Regions from separate parts of the Homo sapiens genome. Here region 2 is linked to region 1. The links come from fine-mapping of genetic effects on gene expression. A gene starts in region 1. The other region holds a variant in brackets. All regions are shown on one strand. Distances are from middle to middle.

Region 1 (8,329 bases):
TGTTTAGCCTTTCACTGGGTCTCTAGGATGAAAGTCCAAACTCCTCTCAAACCCGTCACCTTGGGTTCTTGCCCACAGCTTCCACCTCACCTGCGGCCACTCCCTATGGACATCCCGCACTCAACCCTTATCAGATTGCAGCACTTGCTGTTCCTGGAACACGCCTTCTTTCCTCGCCTTAGTGTTCTCTTCTCTGTGGATATCCTCTGTGATACCTTTCCACTTGGTAGTCACTTTGTTCAAAACGCCTCTCCTGACTTCTCTAGGCAATTAGTTATTTCTGTCAGAGGTGTTGGAGCCAGAGCAACTCTATGTTGAATAGAGGCTGAGACCTACTGGGCTGCATTGCCAGGAGGTTAGGGATTCCTAGTCACAGGATGAGATAGGAGGTCAGCACAAGATATAGATCATAAAGACTCAGCGGATGAAACAGGATGTGAAAAAGAAACCAGCCGGCCGGGCGCATTGGCTCAGCAGACGGATCACGAGGCCAGGAGTTCAAGACCAGCCTGGCCAACATGGAGAAACCCAGTCTCTACTAAAAAAAAATACAAATTTAGCCAGGTGTGTTGGACTACTACGCGCCTGTAGTCCTAACTACTCGGGAGGCCAGGAGTTCAAGACCAGCCTGGCCAACATGGAGAAACCCAGTCTCTACTAAAAAAAAATACAAATTTAGCCAGGCGCGTAGGACTACTATGCGCCTGTAGGCCTAACTACTCGGGAGGCTGAGGCAGGAGAATTGCTGGAACCCGGGAGGCGGAGGTTACAGTGAGCCGAGACCGTGCCATTGCACTCCAGCCTGGGTGACAGAGCGAGACTCCATCTCAAAAAAAAAAAGAAACCAGCCAAAACCCACAACAACCAAGATGGTGATGAAGGTGACCTCTAGTTGTTCTCACTGTTTATTGTACGCTAATTATAATGCATTAACATGATAAAAGACACTCCCACCAGTGCCGTGACAGTTTATAAATGGCACAGCAACATCCAGAAGTTACCCTATATAGTCTAAAAGGCAGAGAAATCCTCAGTCCTGGGAAATCCTTGCCCCTTTCCTGGAAAATTCACGAATAACCCTCTCCCTAGTTAGCATGTAATCAAGAAATAGCCATAAAAATAGCCAACAAGGCCGGGCGCAGTGGCTCACGCCTGTAATCCCAGCACTTTGGGAGGCAGGTGGATCACTTGAGATCATGAGTTTGAGACCAGCCTGGCCTACATGGCGAAACCCCATCTCTACTAAAAATAGAAATAAAAAAATTACCTGGGTGAGGTGGCACGCATCTGTAATCCCAGCTACTCTGTGGGCTCAGCAGGAGAATCACTTGAACCTGGGAGGTGGAGGTTGCAGTGAGCCGAGATCGTGCCGTTGCACTCCAGCCTGGGTGACAGAGCGAGACTTCATCTCAATTAAAAAAAAAAAAAAGAAAAAGAAAAAGCCATAAGCAGCCCTCAGTGCTGCTCTGCCTATGGAGTAACCATTCTTTTATTTCTTTACTTCTCTAATAAATTTGGTTTCACTTTATGAGCTCGTCCTGAATTCTTTCTTGTGTAATATTCAAGAACCCTCTTTTGGGGTCTGGATTGGGACCCCTTTCCAGTAACATTTCCTCTTCTCTGGTCCCACAATACTTTGTCCATAAGTGATTCTGTACTTATTAGCAGATAATTACAAGTATTTTTGTTTATACAATGTCTTACCCCCTAAACTGTCAATAGATTTTGTTCAATTTATTTTTGTATGCTCTAATATAGAGCCTGGCACATAATGTGTATTCAACAAATGTTTACTGAATAAATTTTCAAGGGAATAAGTTTTAATTTCTATCTTTCTGATTGCTTAGTGTTTAATATATTATAAAAAATATGATTCAGGCCGAGCGTGGTGGCTCATGCCTGTAATCCCAGCACTTTGGGAGACTGAGGCGAGGGGATCACCTGAGGTCAGGAGTTTGAGACCAGCCTGGACAATATGATGAAACCTTGTCTCTACTAAAAAATACAAAAATTAGCCAGGCGTGGTGGTGTGCGCCTGTAGTCAGAGCTACTCCAGAGGCTGAGGCAGGAGAATGGCTGGAACCCGGGAGGCGGAGGTTGCAGGGAGCCAAGATGACGCCACTGTACTCCAGCCTGGGCAACAGAGCGACAGACTCCATCTCAAATAAATAAATAAAAAAAAAATAAATAATATGATGCACTTTCAGGATAGCATGCTCTTTGAATCTCTTTAAATAGTGACAGTTTATATTTGAACAGTTATTTTTTCATTTTTCAAAGCACTTTTCCCCAACATTTTATTATGAAAATCTCCAAATATATGGGGGAAAAATAATTGTAAGTGAACACTTGTGTCGGGACTCAGAAACTGATAGCCCAAAATATGGGGCTTTGACCGGCTGAATGGAAGCCTCAAGGTCTCTCTGACCTCACTGCCCAGCACCATCTCTCCCAAAGCACAGGATGAAGTTGAAGTTCCTTTATCTGGCTACAATCCGAACCCACCAAAAGGAACAATTGTTTTTTCTTCCCCTCCTTGTAAGACCAAAAATGTAACCACCTGAACAGACCCTTTCACAAGATAATGTGCAAGTTCATCCCTGTGCCCTGATCCATTCACTTTCCCTAGTCATCTCCTCAACAGAATGCCTCTGCTCCCCTCTCCCCAAGTCTGTTGGCCAGGATGGTAGACAAGCTTCTGAACCCCGTTGGGGGTGTGTAATCACTCTGTGATTCTCCCCATGTACATGTTAATAAATGCATATGCCTTTTCTCCCATTAATCTGCCTTTTGTGAGTTGATTTTTCAGCAAACTTCAGAGGGCAAAGGGAACATTTTTCCCATGGTCCCTATACCCATATATACCCACTACCTAGATTCAAAATCAACATTTTGCTATATTTGCAAAACACTTTTCATAGGCTAATTTTATTATCACCTTTTTAAAAAAATTCTTTTTACAAGTACTGCTCCTTGTGGAGCAGGACTACTCGATAGACAGTGTGCCCAGAGTAGCTTATTATCATTTTTTATTTCACCTAATGACTAAGGTATGATTCTATGTTTTATAGATAAGGAAACTGAAACTGAGGCTTTAATGACTTCCAAGGAGCTTGTCTGCCAGAAGTTGTAATCAACTTGTGCCAGCTGATCTGTCCACACCCTCTATCCACAGGTGTTAGATATGTAACCTAGGTCTGAAAAATATTTAGAATATTCTTGTGATGAAAAGCTTGCAATTCCACAACACAGGGGAATCAGCAAAATCATGGGAAAACCAATAGAATACATTTCTAACTCATGAATCATTCAGAGAAAAATCCAGTCTTGGGTTTTCCCTCCCCCTCATCCCATTTCTATTCCTGATTAGTCATCATTTCCTGCCCAGCCTGTCTGAGATGTTTCTTCCATCCTTTCTTTTCCAGTAACAGTAACCTGGTGCGGGTCTACAGTATCTGTTATCTCAGCTGATTTCCTTTCTGCCTTTTCATGAACCAGAGACATGTGATTTCCAATTAAAGCACAGCCCTGACCATGTCTTTGCTCAGCTTACAAAACGTCAACGGCTCGCAGCTATCCACCGAATTAAGCCTACTATAATCCCCTTCCTTCCACACTACAACCTATCCACGCATCTGTCCTCTTACTCCTTAGCTTCCATCTTACATGACTAAGAGTTGTTTCCCCAAATACACCCTTATTTACTTTTTTCATTTATAACTCACCACCACCCCCTCCAAAGTTTCACGTGGGTAAATTCTAGACCTCCACGTCATAGGCCAACTCAAATGCCAATCCTTCTAATGAACCTTCTAGAGAGCCCGGGCCTGTTGTCATCTCTATAGCCAATCTTTGGCATCTTGTGGCAATAATCTCATTCTACCTTGTAGAGCTTTCTGGTCTGACTTCCCTTGCCACCTTCTGCTCCCTTTGCCTAAGTATAACACTTTTGAGGAAAAGAACGCTGTTTTAATCATCGTCGCCTCGCCCACAGGCGGTGCTTTATTGTGCTTAATATCGTTTAACGCATCACACACTGCCGAGGGGGTCGGAGGCGGACGCCTTTTGCTGTATCCACACAGACCCGCGCAGGCACACACGTAGGCCGTCTGCCACTCTGACAGACACGTGTCCCCTGGGCCACAGCCCTGGAACTGTCTCGGGATTCCCAGCCTGTGGGCGCTTCCATGCTGGCCAGCGGAAGGGGACGCTTTTTTCTTCAGAACAGCTCCAACGGATACCTCTTATTTTAGACCGCCTGCGGATTCTATCTATAAATCAGCCTAAGCCCCGCTTCCTTTTAAAACAGGATTACGCCGGGTCGAGGGAGCCTGGCGTGGCCGCGCAGTGGCCGGGTCCCGCGGATTCCCCTCCAGCTCCCGCTTGGTAGCGCCCGCTTTGTCAGCGCGCAGCGCTCGCCGGGCGCCCTGCAGGTCTCGCCAGGTCTCACAGCAGACGGTGCCGACGCAGCGGTGTTGCACCTCCCTCTCCGGCTCTGCTGCCCGGGATTTCCCCAGAACCTGCGCCGCGCGAGAAGGAGCCTGGGAGCATCCGCCCACACTGCCCGGACAGTCGGCTCGACTCGGTGCCCTCGGCCCCAGCCGGGCTCCGCTCCTCGGGCGCGCGAGGGGCCGTGGTGGCGGCGGCGCCCGGCATGTTTCATAGTCCGCGGCGGCTCTGCTCGGCCCTGCTGCAGAGGGACGCGCCCGGCCTGCGCCGCCTGCCCGCCCCAGGGCTGCGCCGCCCGTTGTCCCCGCCGGCTGCTGTTCCCAGGCCCGCATCCCCCCGGCTGCTGGCGGCGGCCTCGGCGGCCTCGGGCGCCGCGAGGTCGTGTTCCCGAACAGGTGAGTGCACCCCAGTTCCGGGCGGAGAACGCCACGGCCGCCAACGCGCGGCCGCCACCTGGAGACCGCGCGGAATGAATGAGAAGCCCGGGGCTGCCGGTCGTGGAGTCTGGCCTGAAAGTGGGTCCTTTACCGGAGCAACCTTCTGCGTTCCCTTTTTCCTCTTTCCCTGTTCCCCGACTTGCCTGGGGCTTGCATCAAAGCTAGTAAGAACTGGGAGACTGTATTCAGGTTCCCGCTTGACCCTTAGAGGCCATGCTTTCAGAATTTCTTGTTCTTGACCGTTAAATTTCCCCCTTCCGAGGCCGCGAGTTACTATGTTGGTTACATTTTTTATTGCACGACTTAACGGAAATTTTTATGGAAAAAAAAATCTAAATGATGCTTATTTGCTTATATAGCTTTCATGGTCTAGATATTAAGTTTTTTTTTTAAGTCGTGATAATAACACATTGATTCGTTTTACGTTGTTTTTTTTTTTTTTTTTTTTTTTTTTTTTTGAGATGGAGTCTCACTGTGTCACCCAGGCTGGAGTCCAGTGGCACGATATCGGCTTACCGCAACCTCCCGCTCCCGGGTTCAAGCGATTCTCCTGCCTCAGCCTCCCGAGTAGCTGGGATTACAGGCGCCAGTCACCACGCCTAGCTAACTTTTGTATATTTAGTAGAGACGGGGGTTTCACCATTTTGGCCAGGCTGGTCTTGAACTCCTGACCTCGTGATCCACCCGCCTCAGCCTCCCAGAGTGCTGGGATCACAGGCGTGAGCCACCGCGCTCGGCCATTTTACGTTTCTTTGGATTTTTTTTTTTTGGAGGCTTCCACTCTTTATAGTTAACATCATTTTTTGTCCTGTGTATCTAAGATCTTGTAAAAGTGAGGCCTTAGTTTCACCAAGAGCTGTTTTCATACATCATAATAACTACCCTGAGTTTTCCTTTTTTGCTACCTCTGTTTCTGCCTGGGCACACATTACCATGGCCACAAATTACATACAAATTAATTATACTTTAAAAATTGATAAATTTTTTCTTTCAAAACTAGGCAATACATAACTTTTTTTTTTTTTTTTTTTGAGACGGAGTTTTGCTCTTATTTCCCAGGCTGGAGTGCAATGGCGCGATCTCGGCTCACCGCAACCTCTGCCTCCCGGGTTCAAGCGATTCTCCTGCCTCAACCTCCCGAGAAGCTGGGATTACAGGCATGCGCCACCGCGCCAGGCTGATTTTTGTATTTTTAGTAGAGATGGGGTTTCTCCATGTTGGTCAGGCTGGCCTCGAACTCCCTAGCTCAGGTGAACCTCCCGCTTTGGCCTCCCAAAGTGCTGGGATTACAGGCGTGAGCCACCGCCCCCCCGGCCTATAAAATTTAAAAAAATAGGCCGGGCGCGGTGGCTCACGCCTGTAATCCAGCACTGTGGGAGGCGGAGGCGGGTAGATCACCCGAGGTCAGGAGTTCGTGACCATCCTGGCCAATGGGCTTGGGCGTGGTGGCACTCGCCTGTAATCCCAGCTACTCTGGAGGCTGAGGCAGGAGAATCACTTGAACCTGGGAGGCGGAGTGTTGCAGTGAGCCGAGATCGCACCATTGCACTCCAGCCTGGGTGACAAGAGTAAAACTCCGTCTCAAAACAAAATTAATAAAAATTTTAAAAAATGTATATATTTTAAAAATGGTCATCTGGAATGTGATTGAAGCCAAGACTTTAAACTATTCGCATTGTTGGCAGATATTTAGGTATTTCCCAATCTAGTATCAAACTCCTGGCCTCGAGTTATCCTCAGACTCTGGAGCAGTTGAGATTTGCAGGTGGAAGCCACCATGCCCAACTTAGTCATTTTAAAATTAGGATGTTGAATTGGTTGCTGGAGATTCTGAACTATATTGTTCCTTAGAGTGAACTTGACAGTTAGATTCCCCACCCCCACCCCCAATTTCGTAGGAATGTGGTACATTGTGAAATAACTGCCAGAATGAGTATATTGCCTGATAACTTTTTTCTTGCTGGAAATTTTAAGAACAACATTGTTAGAGGTTTGAGGTAGGAAAAGTAAAAGAAAACCAGGTGATGTCTTCTGTACCAGCTTATATCTTAAATTCCCTCAAAGTCTCAGAGGCAGGGTTAGTAGGTACCTCCTCATGGGAATACTGTTAGCTTGTGTAAAACATAGATGGCTGTGTTATCTGAGTAATTACTGTTATCTGAGTAATAATATCAGGTCAGATTGGAATGTTGGGCTTTTGACCCAAGAAAGTGTTTAATGAACTTCTTTTAAGAAATCCCCTGAAACCCCCTAGTTTTACAGATAAGGAAATTGAAGGACTTTATGGTACTTAAACTTTTGTAGGCAGTTACTATAAAGTCTAGACAATTTTCCTGTTCATGCATTTTTAGCTTCAGCAGCTTGTTGGAAGAAACATGCCTGCATTGATTCATTCATTGCTTGTTCACTCATTCCAGATCTTTACAGAATGTCTCACACAATGTAGGTGCTTTATTATGGGAGTTAAAAACATGAGCTTTAGTCAGTCCCTAAGGAGTTTACTGCCCAGTAAGAGATGAGATTTGCACAATGAAATGGCTGTTTAATGAAATGAAACACCTTTTATTCTCTTGACTTGGAAATGGCACAAGGGTGCAGGAAAGCAGGAAGTCCCTTTTGGGCTTCTAGAAATGGGTGGCATTTCAGCTGGCTCTTGAAGCATGGTTAGGATTGGAAGAGATTACTATAAAGCGTTTTGTTTGGAAAAAGCAGGAGTAAATGCAGAAAGGCATGAGACACACACAGATGAGGAAGGGTGAGAGAAGAGGCACTTTGCAAAAATGGACATTGTTTTCCAAAGAGCCTCAGACCCAGCACTAAGTGCTTTTTAATTTTAATTTTTATTTTTATTTTTTTTGAGACAAGGTTCTCTCGCACTGTTGCCCAGGATGGAGTGTAGTGGCGCCACCTCTGCTCACTGCAACCTCCACCTCCCAGGCTCAAGCAGTTCTCCTGTCTCAGCCTCCTGAGCAGCTGTGACTACAGGCACACGCCACTGTGCCGGGCTAATTTTTGTATTTAGTAGAGACAGGATTTCAACGTGTTGCCCGGGCTCGTCTCAAACTCCCCAGCTCTGGTGATCCACCTGCTTTGGCCTTCCAAAGTGCTGGGATTACAGGTGTGAGCCACTGCGCCCAGCCTATGAAGTGCTTTTTTAAAATGCAGATTCTTGGATCCTACTGTAGACCTATTAAGTCTGAGTCATTCATGATGGGCCCTGGATTCCACATAACCAAATGAAATGACAAAAAGAATAACTCCAGATTGTTCTTCTATGCCCTCAAATTTGGACATCTGGCACCCATATGTGAGAGAGACATTGAAGGGGCCAAAAGCTCCTCTCCACTCCTGAGCCTTGTGGTGGGGAGTAGTGAGTCCCGACAGCTGTCCACATTTGCTAATCAGTTCCTGCATAACTTATGCCCCTTGGCAATTGGTAGTTA
Region 2 (8,329 bases), 83 kb before region 1:
CAGTTCCTGCCTTAACTGATGACATTCCACCACAAAAGAAGTGAAAATGGCCTGTTCCTGCTTTAACTGATGACATTGTCTTGTGAAATTCCTTCTCCTGGCTCATCCTGGCTCAAAAGCTCCCCCACTGAGTACCTTGTGACCCCCCACTCCTGCCCGCCAGAGAACCCCCCTTTTTCCTTTACCTACCCAAATCCTATAAAACGGCCCCACCCCTATCTCCCTTCACTGACTCTCTTTTCGGACTCAGCCCACCTGCACCCAGGTGAAGTAAACAGCTTTATTGCTCACACAAATCCTGCTTGGTGGTCTTTTCACACAGACGTGCATGAAATTTGGTGCCGTGACTCGGATCGGGGGACCTCCCTTGGGAGATCAATCCTCTGTCCTCCTGTTCTTTGCTTGGTGAGAAAGATCCACCTACGACCTCAGGTCCTCAGACCAACCAGCCCAAGAAACATCTCACCAATTTTAAATCAGGTAAGCGGCCTCTTCTTACTCTCTTCTCCAACCTCTCTCACTATCCCTCAACCACTTTCTCCTTTCCACTCTTCAATCTCTCCCTTCTCTTAATTTCAATTCCTTTCATTTTCTGGCAGAGACAAAGGAGACAGGTTTTATCTGTGGACCCAAAACTCCGGTGCCGGTCACGGACTAGGGAAGGCAGCCTTCCCTTGGTGTTTAATCATTGCAGGGACGCCTCTCTGATTATTCACCCAGGTTTCAGAGGTGTCAGACCACGCAGGGACACCTGCCTTGGTCCTTCACCCTTAGCGGCAAGTCCCGCTTTTCTGGGGAAGGGGCAAGTACCCCAACCCCTTCTCTCCGTGTCTCTACCCCTTCTCCACCTTTCTGGGGGGGCAAGAAACCCCCAACCCCTTCTCCTTCACCCTTAGCAGCAAGTCCTGCTTTTCTGGGGGAGGGGCAAGTACCCCAACCTCATATCTCTGTGTCCCAATCCCTTATTTCTGCACCCCGACCTCTTATCTCTGTGCCCCAATCCCTTATTTCCATGCCCCGACCCCTTATATCTCTTTGCCCTGATCCCTTATTTCCGCACCCCAACCTCTTATATTCTCTGCACCCCAATCCCTTATGTCCATGCCCTGACCTCGTATTTCTGTGCCCCGACCCCTTTCCCACTTTTCTGGAGGGTAAGAACCCCTGAACCCCTTCCCCCCGTGTCTCTACTCTCTTTTCTCTGGGCTTGCCTCCTTCACTATGGGCAACCTTCCACCCTCCATTCCTCCTTCTTTTCCCTTAGCCTGTGTTCTTAAGAACTTAAAACCGCTTCAACTCTCACTTGACCTAAAATCTAAGCATCTTATTTTCTTCTGCATTGCCACTTGACCCCAATACAAACTCGACAGTAGTTCCAAATAGCCAGAAAACGGCACTTTGAATTTTTCCATCCTGCAAGATCTAAATAATTCTTATCGTAAAGTAGGCAAACAGTCTGAGGTGCCTGACGTCCAGGCATTCTTTTACACATCGGTCCCTTCCTAGTCTCTGTGCCCAATGCAACTCGTCCCAAATCTTCCTTCTTTCCCTCCCACCTGCCCCCCTCAGTCCCAACCCCAAGCATCGCTGAGTCTTTCTAATCTTCCTTTTCTACAGACCCATCTGACCTCCCCTCCTCCCCAGGCTGCTCCTCGCCAGGCGGAGCTAGGTCCCAATTCTTCCTCAGCCTCTGCTCCTCCACCCTATAATCCTTTTATCACCTCCCCTCCTCATACCCGGTCCGGCTTACAGTTTCATTTGACTAGCCACCCCCCGACCTGCCCAGCAATTTACTCTTAAAAAGGTGGCTGGAGCTAAAGGCATAGTCAAGGTTAATGCTCCTTTTTCTTTATCCCAAATCAGATAGCGTTTAGGCTCTTTTTCATCAAATATAAAAATCCAGCCCAGTTCATGACTCCTTTGGCAACAACCCTGAGACAGTTTACAGCCCTAGACCCTAAAAGGTCAAAAGGCCGTCTTATTCTCAAAATACGTTTTATTACCCAATCTGCTCCTGACATTAAATAAAACTCCAAAAATTAAATTCCGGCCCTCAAACCCCACAACAGGATTTAATTAGCCTCACCTTCAAGGTGTACAATAATAGAAAACAGTTGCAATTCCTTGCCTCCACTGTGAGACAAACCCCAGCCACATCTCCAGCACACAAGAACTTCCAAACACCTGAACCGCAGCAGCCAGGCGTTCCTCCAGAACCTCCTCCCCCAGTAGCTTGCTACAAGTGCCAGAAATCTGGCCACCAGGCCAAGGAATGCCTGCAGCCCAGGATTCCTCCTAAGCCGCTTCCCATCTGTGCAGGACCCCACTGGAAATTGGACTGTCCAACTCACCTGGCAGCCACTCCCAGAGCCCCTGGAACTCTGGCCCAAGGCTCTCTGACTCCTTCCCAGATCTTCTTGGCTTAGCAGCTGAAGACTGACGCTGCCTGATCACCTCAGAAGCCCCCTAGATCATCACGGACGCCGAGCTTTGGGTAACTCTCACAGTGGAGGGTAAGTACTTCCCCTTCTTAATACGGAGGCTACTCACTCCACATTACCTTATTTTCAAGGGCCGGTTTCCCTTGCCTCCATAACTGTTGTGGGTATTGACAGCCAGGCTTCTAAACCTCTTAAAACTCCCCAACTCTGGTGCCAACTTAGACAACACTCTTTTAAGCACTCCTTTTTAGTTATCCCCACCTGCCCAGTTCCCTTATTAGGCCGAGACACTTTAACTAAATTATCTGCTTCCCTGACTATTCCTGGACTACAGCTGCATCTCATTGCCGCCCTTCTTCCCAATCCAAAGCCTCCTTTGCGTCCTCCTCTTGTATCCCCCAACTTTAACCCACAAGTATAAGATACCTCTACTCCCTCCTTGGTGACCCATCATGCACCCCTTACCATCTCATTAAAACCTAATCACCCCTACCCCGCTCAATGCCAATATCCCATCCCACAGCATGCTTTAAAAGGATTAAAGCCTATTATCAATCACCTGCTACAGCATGGCCTTTTAAAGCCTATAAACTCTCCTTACAATTCCCCCATTTTACCTGTCCTAGAACCAGACAAGACTTACAGGTTACTTCAGGATCTGCGCCTTATCAACCAAATTGTTTTGCCTATCCACCCCGTGGTGCCAAACCCATATACTCTCCTATCCTCAATACCTCCCTCTACAACCCATTATTCTGTTCTGGATCTCAAATATGCTTTCTTTACTATTCCTCTGCACCCTTTATCCCAGCCTCTCTTTGCTTTCACTTGGACTGACCCTGACGCCCATTAGGCTCAGCAAATTACCTGGGCTGTACTGCCGCAAGGCTTCACAGACAGCCCCCATTACTTCAGTCAAGCCCAAATTTCATCCTCATCTGTTACCTATCTCGGCATAATTCTCATAAAAACACATGTGCTCTGCCTGCTGATCGTGTCCGACTAATCGCCCAAACCTCAATCCCTTACAAAACAACAACTCCTTTCCTTCCTAGGCACAGTTAGTGCGGTCAGAATTCTTACACAAGAGCCAGGACT[G/A]CACCCTGTAGCCTTTCTGTCCAAACAACTTGACCTTACTGTTTTAGCCTAGCCATCATATCTCAGTGCAGCGGCTGCTGCCGCCCTAATACTTTTAGAGGCCCTCAAAATCACAAACTATGCTCAACTTACTCTCTACATTTCTCATAACTTCCAAAATCTATTTTCTTCCTCATACCTGACGCATATACTTTCTGCTCCCCAGCTCCTTCAGCTGTACTCACTCTTTGTTAAGTTCCACAATTACCATTGTTCCTGGCCGGGACTTCAATCCGGCCTCCCACATTATTCCTGATACCACACCTGGCCCTCATGACTGCATCTCTCTGATCCACCTGACGTTCACCCCATTTCCCCGCATTTCCTTCTTCCCTGTTTCTCACCCTGATCGCACTTAGTTTATTGATGGCAGTTCCACCAGGCCTAATCGCCACACACCAGCAAAGGCAGGCTATGCTATAGTACAAGTCACTAGCCCGCCTCTTAAAACCTCTCATTTCCTTTCCATCGTGGAAATCTATCCTCAAGGAAATAACTTCTCAGTGTTCCATCTGCTATTCTACTACTCCTCAAGGATTATTCAGGCCCCCCTCCCTTCCCTACACTTCAAGCTCGAGGATTTGCCCCCACCCAGGACTGGCAAATTAGCTTTACTCAACATGCCCCGAGTCAGATAACTAAAATACCTCTTAGTCTAGGTAGACACTTACACTGGATAGGTAGAGTCCTTTCCTACAGGGTCTGAGAAGGCCACCACAGTCATTTCTTCCCTTCTGTCAGACATAATTCCTCAGTTTAGCCTTCCCACCTCTATACAGTCTGATAACAGATCAGCCTTTATTAGTCAAATCAGCCAAGCAGTTTTTCAGGTGTTAGTATTCAGTGAAACCTTTATATCCCTTACAGTCCTCAGTCTTCAGGAAAAGTAGAACAGACTAATGGTCTTTTAAAAACACACCTCACCAAGCTCAGCCACCAACTTAAAAAGGACTGGACAATACTTTTACCACTTTCGCTTCTCAGAATTAAGGCCTGTCCTCGGAATGCTACAAGGTACAGCCCACTTGAGCTCCTTTTTATTAGGCCCCAGTCTCATTCCAGACACTAGACCAACTTGGACTGTGCCCCAAAAACTTGTCATCCCTACTGTCTTCTGTCTAGTCCTACTTCTATTCACCGTTCTCAACTACTCATACATGCCCTGCTCTTGTTTACACTGCCAGTTTACACTGTTTCTCCAAGCCAGCACAGCTGATATCTCCTGGTGTTATCCCCAAACCACCGCTCTTAACTCTTGAAGTAAATAAATAATTTTTGCTGGCAGGACTATGATGAATCTCCTAAGGCACTCTAATTATATGTCCTAGGTCCTCCCAATTCTTAGTCCTTTAATACCTGCTTTTCTCCTCTTATTCCATTTACTTTTTCAATTCATACAAAACCGTATCCAGGCCATCACCAATAATTCTACATGACAAGTGTTTCTTCTAACAACCCCACAATATCACCCCTTACCACAAGATCTCCCTTCAGCTTAATCTCTCCCACTCTAGGTTCCCACGCCACCCCTAATCCTGCTCGAAGTAGCCCTGAGAAACATCGCCCATTATCTCTCCATACCATCCCCCAAAATTTTCGCTGTCCAAACACTTTACCACTATTTCATTTTATTTTTCTTATTAATATAAGAAGACAGGAATGTCAGGCCTCTGAGCCCAAGCTAAGCCATCATATCCCCTGTGACCTGCACGTACACATCCAGATGACCAGTTCCTGCCTTAACTGATGACATTCCACCACAAAAGAAGTGAAAATGGCCTGTTCCTGCTTTAACTGATGACATTGTCTTGTGAAATTCCTTCTCCTGGCTCATCCTGGCTCAAAAGCTCCCCCACTGAGTTCCTTGTGACCCCCCACTCCTGCCCACCAGAGAACAACCCCCCTTTTTCCTTTACCTACCCAAATCCTATAAAACAGCCCCACCCCATCTCCCTTCGCTGACTCTCTTTTCGGACTCAGCCCACCTGCACCCAGGTGAAATAAACAGCTTTATTGCTCACACAAAGCCTGTTTGGTGGTCTCTTCACACGGATGCGCATGAAATTCACTTTATATCCACTGACCTGGAAAATGTACACAATACAGTGTAAAACTTTTTAAAGCAAATTATAGAAGATAAAATGATCGCATCTGGGAAAATATGTGTGTACATTTTTTTTTTTTTACTAGTCCTGTCTCATCCTAGGGAGATCATAAAGTTACCTTTGGGAGGTAGAATTAATTGGGGACAAGAATGAATAAATGAGATGACTTTTCACTTCATGCCTTCTGCAATGTTTAGGAAAAAAACATTTCAGAGCATGTCTTTCTGATAATTTGTTTTAAAAAATCACATTAAGATAAAATCATTTACTGCACATTGACCGGGCACGGTGGCTCATGCCTGTAATCCCAGCACTTTGGGAGGCCAAGATGGGCAGATCACGAGGTCAGGAGATCAAGACCATCCTGGCTAACATGGTGAAACCCCGTCTCTACTAAAAATACAAAAAATTAGCCGGGCGTGGTGGTGGGCACCTGTAGTCCCAGCTACTTGGGAGGCTGAGGCAGGAGAATTGCTGGAACCCAGGAGGCAGAGGTCGCAGTGAGCCGAGATCGCACCACTGCACTCCAGCCTGGGCGACAGAGCGAGACTCCATCTCAAAAAAAAAAAAAAAGAAAAAAACATTTACTGCACATCTGTACAATGAATATTAAGTGACCATTAAAAATGATGATGTTGGCCAGGGGCATGCCCCAAGCTCGTAATCTCAGCACTTTGGGAGGTCAAAGCAGGCAGATCTCTTGAGCTCAGGAATTCAAGACCAGCCTGGGCAACATGGTAAAACTATCTCTACAAAAAAACAGAAAACAGCCAGGCAAGGTGGCACACGCCTGTGGTCCCAGTTACTTGAGGGGATGAGAAGGGAAGATGGCTTGACCCCGGGAGGTCCAGGCTCCAGTGAGCCATGTTTGCACCACTGCACTCCAGCCTGGGTGACAAAGTGAGACTCCATCTCAAAAACAGAAAAGGTTAATGCCGTAATCTATACATATTGACCTCAAAATGTGGCCACAACATATATTTCTGAAAAAAAGAAAAGAGGTTACTGAACAATATATGTAAGACAAACACGTTTGCATAAAATTCTGCATCTGTTGAGAGAACAGTGTCAGCTGTCTGAAAAGATGTTCCTCAAATATTGATAGTAGTTATTGCTGGGTAGTGTTACTTTTAGTGATTTTTACTTTCTTTATACTTTTCTGTGCTATGTAATTTTTTTTACAATGAGTGTATAACCTTTTTCTAAATCAGAAAAAAAATCTATTTCTATTTTGAAAGTTTTAATATGTGCTAGGAAAATAAGAAGAGTAAGAACGTTTCACAAAATGAATAAAAAGTAATTTCTTCCTGATTCCCAGTAGTATCTCTAAAGTCAGCACCAATAAGGATCATAACTTAGAACTGCATATTTTCTGAGTTGAATCTTTTTGCCCCAATTTTGCTAACTATACTAAAAACAGTATTTCAAATTCCCCCCACCACAGAGAAAATACAAGTTCATCCCTAATCTATTCAGCAAATTCAACCCCAACCAGGGGTTTCTTCCTAAACTAATTTATTCTTAACTTTTTCATTTATCTCCCAAGCACTATGTTTGATGTTTAAAAAGAAAAAGCACTGACTTGACCTAATATTAGTACTACATGAATGTGCAGGTTTATTTTCCCAATTTTGTCCTGATGGCAGTAATTATTTCAGAACCTTGCTAAGTCTTACTTGCTTATCAGTCTTTCCAATAATTCTTACCAGCAAAACTGGCAGTTTTATCCTTCTTTTCAACAGAGATTTAGAGGCCAAGAACTATAGTGAATTCTCACCTGACAAAGCGTTTATTGCCTTTTTCAAAATATACTGCAGGACGTTTATTAGTAGACTATGAAGTATTTATCACCAGTAATTAAAAATAAGCTGTACTTGTTGGAATAAATGCAGAGTCAGAGATGCAATACTATTACTTTTTATTGTTTATTTGCTCTTCTTTTAACCTAATATAAAAATTCCTTTACTAACGTGCTAAGGCATTTATCTTAAGGCTGATGTTAAACAAACCTGTTTGCATTTTACTAAGCAGACAAGGAAAGCATCAGAAGTCACTATAAAAAGATTTCTAAGGCAACAGTGAGAAGATCCAGGAATGTTTGTGCACTGCTAGTAGAAATAAAGGCAAATTGACCTTTAAAAGATAAGAAGGTAATCTGCAACATAGAGCAACCACGTTCTCATCCTTTAACCTAAAAATTCCACTTATAATTTGTATCCTAAAAACTAATCATAAATATACAAAAGTGATAGCTACAAGATTGTTTAACCATTGGAACTTAGTTTTTTAAATTTTCCGAATAACAAAACACCTTGCAGCCATTAAAAATAGTGTTGCAGAAGAATATTTAATTACAAAGAAAAATAGGAGACAAGGAGTTTATAATATGCATATGCACAACATGATTGCAAGTTATAGCTTAGATAAATAGACAGATAGAGATCAGAACTAGAAATATATCAATCAAGCATTAATAAGTCACCAAAACATAAATGTTGAAATCTCTGGAGGATGGAATTATGGGTGGGGTGTATACTCTTCTGTGTGCCCATCTGTATTTTCCAAATTCTTACAATGTATGTGTGCTACTTTTGTAATGGGAGAAGTTCTTATTAAGAGATAGTAAGTGCCCTCTAGAAGCTTGTT

The links. PIP is the estimated chance that this variant, and not a neighbour inherited with it, causes the effect.
Region 2: its variant is the best candidate, but not a certain one, in a credible set for the expression of NOCT in monocytes (TOPMed, PIP 0.63).

The regions. Positions count from the first base shown.
Region 1 is chr4:139,011,328-139,019,656 of GRCh38, forward strand. NOCT (nocturnin) reads left to right here and starts at 4,454. Exons shown (of 3, transcript NM_012118.4): 1 at 4,454-4,844. The coding sequence starts at 4,655. It overlaps LOC105377448 (a long non-coding RNA gene), which reads right to left and starts at 1,319. Exons shown (of 3, transcript NR_133945.1): 1 at 1,268-1,319. RefSeq lists enhancers at 2,814-4,013, 3,150-4,071, 4,104-4,453 and a silencer at 4,594-4,893.
Region 2 is chr4:138,927,904-138,936,232 of GRCh38, forward strand. The region is part of intron 2 of LOC105377448 (a long non-coding RNA gene); the gene reads right to left. Among named protein-coding and RNA genes, the nearest start is that of NOCT, 84 kb to the right of the region's middle. RefSeq lists an enhancer at 5,059-5,613. The variant G/A (reference allele first, on the strand shown) is at 3,540.